Homo sapiens: one gene and its partner. The gene in region 1 interacts genetically with each later gene. Each region holds a gene or a part of one and is shown in the gene's direction. Other genes may lie near its edges.

Evidence for each region.
Region 2: changes in TEX22 (region 1) and HAPSTR1 together harm fitness less than expected from each alone (positive genetic interaction), as found in Homo sapiens cells (one large-scale study listed by BioGRID).

Annotation. Positions count from the first base shown.
Region 1 is NC_000014.9:105,401,538-105,405,037, forward strand, and holds part of TEX22 (testis-expressed protein 22), read left to right. Parts: intron 1-3,500.
Region 2 is NC_000016.10:9,105,144-9,108,643, forward strand, and holds part of HAPSTR1 (HUWE1-associated protein modifying stress responses 1), read left to right. Parts: exon of another isoform or gene 1-1,621; intron 1,622-3,227; coding exon of another isoform or gene 3,228-3,361; exon of another isoform or gene 3,362-3,500. UniProt on the Homo sapiens protein: Acts as a central player within a network of stress response pathways promoting cellular adaptability. The E3 ligase HUWE1 assists HAPSTR1 in controlling stress signaling and in turn, HUWE1 feeds back to promote the degradation of HAPSTR1.

The DNA of each region.
Region 1 (3,500 bases):
CACTTGGACACAGGAAGGGGAACATCACACACCGGGGACTCTTGTGGGGTGGGGGGAGGGGGGAGGGATAGCATTAGGAGATACACCTAATGCTAAATGACGAGTTAATGGGTGCAGCACACCAACATGGCACATGGATACATATGTAACAAACCTGCATGTTGTGCACATGTACCCTAGAACTTAAAAGTATAATTTAAAAAAAACCGAAGTATAGAAACCTGTAGGTTCTGGATAAGATGGGAAGAGATGGACATCTCCATAGCCTGACGGAGGGGAGCTCTCAAGAGCTTGCAGTGGCCACCAATGGAAGTATTTCAGATGCAAGCAGATGGATGCATGGTACCACTATGACGTCAGAAAAATCGCCAGGTGCGGTGGCTCATGCCTGTAATCCCAACAATTCAGGAGGCCGAGGCAGGCGGATCACCTGAGGTCGAGAGTTGGAGACCATCCTGGCAAATGGGATGAAACCCCGTCTCTATTAAAAATACAAAAACTAGCTGGGCATGGTGGTGGGTGCCTATAATCCCAGCTACTTGGGAGGCTGAGGCAGGAGAATTGCTTGAACCTGGGAGTTGGAGGATGCAGTGAGCCGAGATTCCGCCACCACACTCCAGCCTGGGCGACAGAGGGAGACTGTCTCAAAAAAGTAAATAAACAGTATTCTGGAAACCGAAGCCCTTATAGTAAATCAAGAAAATGAGATGTGTAAATATCTGAAAAGATGACAATCACTATTTGCATCTAATATGTTACCTACTTGGAAAATCCAATTTAAGAAACATGAGTACAGATAAAAGAGGGAGTTTGGATATGTGATCACCATTCACAACTTTTCAACACAGTAAAAAGCAGAAAATGGAATGGAAGCAAAGGATACTATTCAACTTAGCAACAGGAACTATGAAGTTCTTAGAAATAAACCTGTTATTGGCCGGGTGTGGTGGCTCACGCCTGTAATCCCAGCACTTTGGGAGGCTGGGGCGGGCAGATCACAAGGTCTGGAGATCAAGACCATCCTGGCTAACACGGTGAAACCCCGTCTCTACTAAAAAATACAAAAAAATTAGCCGGGCGTGGTGGCGGGCGCCTGTAGTCCCAGCTACTCGGGAGGCTGAGGCAGGAGAATGGCGTGAACCCGGGAGGCGGAGCTTGCAGTGAGACGAGATTGCGCTACTGCACTCCAGCCTGGGCGACAGAGCGAGACTCCGTCTCAAAAAAAAAAAAAAAAAAAGAGAAACCTGTTGTTCAATTCCTTCATGAAGAACACTTTACAATGTTACTGAATAGCATGTAGAGCTCCTGATGGAGATGGTTATCATATTGGATGGGCAGATTTCATATGTGTGTTTTTGAGACAGGGTCTTGCTCTGTCACCAGGCTGGAGTACAGTGGTATGATCACAGTGTTACTGGAAAAGGGATCTCCATCTGGACCCCAAGAGAGGGTTTTTGGATCTCATGCAGGAAGGAGTTTGAGGCGAGCTGCAGAGTGCAGTGAGAAGAGATCATTTATTGAAAGCCGCTCCACTGCAGAGCAGGGCATCCTCAACAAGCAAGCAGAGGAACAGACCTACTTTGTTTTTAGTTTTTCTTATATCGAGGTCTTATCTATGTAAAGACCAAGCTGTGCCTACGTGTGGGTGGGCTGACAGCATAACAATTTATTATTCTATTGATTAAAAGGAAACTATTTTACATTTTAGTGTGCAAGTACATTAAAGCATCACTATAATTATCTTGAAAGCATATATTATTGTGGGTGTTGGGACATCTGAACTTCCTTTTCTATGAGTTTGTCCTTGTAGGCATTACCAAGCTGCTTCCTTAGCTGTAAACATCTTAGGTCCGTGGTTGTGACCTGTAAGGAATGTGCTCTATTAGTCTCAAGGTGGAGTTGAACATAAAATGATGTTATCCTGGCTCTCCTAGACTCCTGCTTCTCTAATCACAGCTCACTACAGCCTGGACCTCCTGGACTCCAGCTATCCTCCCACCTCAGCCTCCCAAGTAGCTGGGACCACAGTGGCATGCCACCATGCCTAGCTAATTTTAAAAAAATTTTTGCAGAGATGGGGTCTTACTGTGTTGCCTGGTGTGGTCTTGAACTGGGCTCATGTGATCCTCCAGCTTTGGGGTCCCAAAGTGTTAGGATTATAGGCATGAGCCATTGCGCCCAGCCAGATTTAACGTTTTAAACATGCCAAGCTTCCCAAAAACAATTCAGTGTTTTTTAAAAAAACAGACTTCATGAATCTTGAAAATTTCATTTTAAATGTACATAGTGATTCTGGAAATGTATTACTAGTTTACTTTTTAAAAAAAATTACAGACAGGGTCTCACTATGTTACCTAGGCTGGTCTCTAACTCCTGGCCTTCCTAAGAGCTGGGATCACAGGCATGAGCCACCATACCCAGCCTTTGGCAATGTATTGGTTATCCATTGCTGCATGACAAATTTCCCCAGAGCTTAGCAACTTAAAACAGTAAGTATTTTTATCTTAGTTTCCGTAGGTCAGAAATTTGGGAGCTGCTTAGCTGGTGGCTTTGGTTTGAGATCTCTCAGGAGCTTATAGTTGAGATAGCAGTCAACACTTCAGTCATCTCAAAGCTTGAGGAAGGCTGGAGACTGCTTCCACGGCAGCTCACTCACATGACTGGCGAGTCCATGATAGGGGCTGGCAGGAGGCTCAGCTCCTTACCACGTGGATCTCCCCATAGGACAGCTTCAGTATCCTCAGTATGGGGGCTGGCTTCCCCCAGAGTGAGTGAGTGGAGAGAGTGAGCTGAAAGCTGCAATGACTTCCATGACTTAACCTTGGAAGTCACACTCCTCTCTTTCTACAGTATCCGTTTTGGATACACTGGTCATCCTATTTAGTGTGAGAGGGGACGACACAGGGGCATGGATACCAGGAGGTGAGGATCATTGGATGCCATCTTGGAGGACAGCTCTCACAGGCAGTCATTTAGTCTATACGCTTTAAGAAATTATGTACTGAGAAGCATAATAGTGAAATTGTAGAATGCCAGCGACAAAAACCTCAGAAGCAATTTGAGTGGGAAGACAGAACCTTCAAAGCAGCCACGGGAGCTCGTCACAGTAGAGCAGTAGCATGCCTGTGCTCAGGGGAAGCCATGCTCAGCCTGGAATAGCAGGCCCAGCAAAAATGGATTATACAAAGGGCTAAGTAAAGTTTTTAAATGATAAAAAAGAGAATTTGCCCCCAGCACACTCTCACCTCAGTTCTGAAGAAATGATCTCAAAGCATCATGAAAGTGATGAAAGGTCTGAAATGGATAAAGCATGAGAGGAAGTAGGAAGTGTCTGAGTAAACTGAAACTGACAGTCACTGGATGTCACTCATGCACAGAAAAGCAAGGATACAATCAATATATGTACCTGCAATGGCATAAATGTCAAGATGGTGCCTGTGAGTGGAACTAAAGTGTTCTCAGTTCCTCTGAGAAGAGGAGGGGGGTGGGCCATGGTGGCT
Region 2 (3,500 bases), on another chromosome or scaffold:
TTATTGTTTTCCTGAACTTTGGGAGTTTTAAGCAATGATACAGTTGAAGGGACTGTTTATAATTTTCACATGTTTAAGTTGTGAGGCTTTAAAACTTAAATATAAGGCTTTGTCTAGGAAGAAAATGATCTTTACCTTCAATAAATTTATAATGTAGCACTAATCCAGTATAGATTGGAGACTGAATGCATTCTTACTCTTAGGGTTCATACCTCTAATTCATGTGGTTAAGACAGTGTTGTGGTGAAGTAATAGGGCCCCTTGAAAGAATCTACAGAAACATAAATTATACTGAGTTGTGCTGTACTGGTTTGTGAGAACATCAGTGTATTAAGGAGAATGGTAGTTTAATTTGAATATTTAAAGAAAGTAATTTGAATGGTTCTAGTACTAGGGCCATTATTAACTAGTAACATAGATTAGTGACTTCAACTGGGTGTCCTTATTATCTGATTTGTCTGAAGTGAAAACTGTTAAGGTGCTCTTTTAAAATGTATTTGGAAACACCATAGTTAGGGTAAATACAATGTCACAATTCACTCTTGCATATTATTTGCTTAGCCAAATTTATGAATTCTAAGTTAGGCCAAATTGAAGGTTTTGGAGTTTTACATTGTGGGTGAGTCTAAATTCATGCGTTTGGCAAGCACAAGGACATGGGAAAAGAATCTGGTATTTTGAGGCAGGCTTGAGTTTATAATGAAAGCAAACTCAGTTCCTCTTCATGTCCTATGTATTTAAGAGAGGACAGTTTTCCCTCAGTTTTTTTCCCCTTCCTTACCCCTACCCCCATCAAATACAGCCCAACCAAATAACTGTGTTCTTAATTTAAAGGAAAATGGCAGACTTGACACCTGCTGAATATTTCGTGTAGACAGAGTATGACAATGAATGAGATCCCCAGTCATTGCCCTTGTAAGCCTGGGAACCCAGTTTAGTGGGAGAGACTAATGTAAACAGCTTTAATCAAAAGTATATCAATTGGCCGGGTGCTGTGGCTCACACCTATAATGCCGGCACTTTGGGAGGCCAAGGTGGGTGGATCACTTGAGGTCAGGAGTTTGAGACCACCCTGGCCAACATGGTGAAACCCTCTCCCTATTTAAAGAAAAAAAAGTAAGGCATATCAATTTATGGTTATCAAATAGGTTTTTTTTTTTTTTTTTGAGACTGAGTGTCGCTCTATAGCCCAGGCTGGAGTGTAGTGCTCACTGCGACTTCCGCCTCCTGGGTTCAAATGATTCTCGTGCCTCAGTCTCCCGAGTAGCTGGGATTGTAGGCGCCTGCCACCACGCCCAGCTAATTTTTGTATTTGTAGTAGAGATGGGGTTTCATCATGTTGGCGAAGCTGGTCTTGAACACCTGACCTCAAGTGATCTGCCTTAGCCTCACTGCTTGCCCCTAAGTGGTGGGATTGCAGGTGTGAGCCACTGTGCTGGCCTCAAATAGTTTTTATCAAAGCTACTTCAATTAGTGGTTAGCAAGGCTTAAAGACTAATTCAGTGCTTTATTTTGACACTTGTTCGCAACATGTTGCTTTTTTTCCTGTGTCCTATGGGACCTAGTCATCTGTATGTTAGATTCACAGAGGAATTAAAGAGATAAACATGCATGTGCTAAATTGATTTCTGTCTTGCTTTGTTATCCTATAATAATGTTATAAAATAACATTATTATAAATTTCCCAAGAGTTGAATTAATACCAACAACTGGTAACTCGTTTTTATGTAAACAGCATACTTGAGACCAGAAATCTTCTGGATCACTTTGTGGATCTCTGCCTGCCATTCTCATTGGTCCTCTGTTCATCCCTTTTCTAGAGCTTCTCCTTACCTTGGCTTCTCTTCTGCCACATTGGCCTGCCTGACCTGTCCTCAGGCCCTGTCACTGCCCTAGATTACGTTTCCCATGTCTTCACTTCCAAATCTGGACCTCTCGTTTAGACCTTCTCTCCTGACTGCCAGATGGCATGTCCCACTGTCCTCCGGTGTACATCTCCAAATTGTCCCACAGGCATTTATCTCAGATGAAGTTTCAGGTTGGACTCATTCTTCTGCCCCAACAGCAGAATGACTCATTGAGCCATTGAGCCATTCAGCACATTCTCTATATGGCAGATTCGGTGCTGTCTCTGGAAATACATAAACATAGAGCGATTCCTTTTTCTGTTGAGGCAAAATATGGATTTGGTTAATTTCTATTCACGTCATGAATGTGGTATGTGGAAGGTCTTCTGAGAGCAGAAAGGGATGTTTCACAGCACAGCCCGGCTGTGTGGTGCTCAGGGCAGGCCCTCTGGAGGAGGTGAGCCTGGGCTCTTGGCCTAATGTTTCAGCTCTCACTTTCCAGTCCTGAGCTGTTGTTGCCAGTCCATCTTTCATGAGACCATTGGAGTGATCTTTCTGGTCTTGTCACTTCATGGTTTAAAGTTTCCCTGGGCCTACACAGTGAAGTCCAAATTCAGCATGGTATTACAAGACCCTTATGATCCAGTCTTAACCATTGGTTAGGTATCCTACCCATACTGTTTATCTCTTGAATACCTCTATGCTCTTTGACAAGTCCAGCCCCTACGTGTTCATACCTCACTTCTGTGACACAGCCTTGCTTCAGGGCTCCCAATCTCTGTAGCCTCCCTGAACTGTGCATTTGCTCTGCTGCTTGATTTGTTTCTGTGACTGTTCCATTCTCCTCGGGACACATAGCAGGGACCTTGTCTTGGTCCTTTTTTTTTTGGCTTTAACAGAACATAGCAAAGAACCTGACATAGGTGTAGTCTGAGTTTACCACTGGGGTTATCACAGAGGTCTGCTAAGTGAATACAACACAGTGGGGACCCAGAACCTCTAGAAAGGGTTGAGGATTACAATCCCCAGATAGCTACAATCAGGGAATAATGTAACCTGTTTGCCTAGGGTGCTACATGGTAATCTTGAATTAGAACAACTGAGACTTCCATGGGACCTTAGGGTGATAACCATTAAACCTACTCTTTCAGTGTTTACTTTGTAAAAGCATCACACTAAGGAGGTTGTCATTTAATCCTCACACCTACCCTGGGTTATTAACACTGTTGATGAAGAAAGCCTTACTTGGCTAAGATATGGAGCAGGTTAGTAAGTGGTAGAATAGATACTCCAGTCCTGTCTCCAAAATGCAAATTTTTTTTTAATTAAAAAAATTTCTAATTTTCAATATATTTATTTTTGATTTTTTATTTTCTGTAGAGTTGGAGTTTCGCCATGTTGTCCAGGCTGGTCTCGAACTCATGGGTGCAAGCCATACCCCAACCTCGACCTTCCGAAGTGTTGGGAATACTGGCATGAGCCATGATGCCTGGCCTCAAAATGCATACCCTTAACCACTATGCTCTCACATTTTTAGATGTGGGATTTCTGTCTACGACGTCGCCCCCACTAAGACCTAGGGCTTAGGTGTCGAGGTGGGAAAGATCTTGAGGCTTTTCTTCTCAAAATTAATCAGAAACGATGTGAATTTTA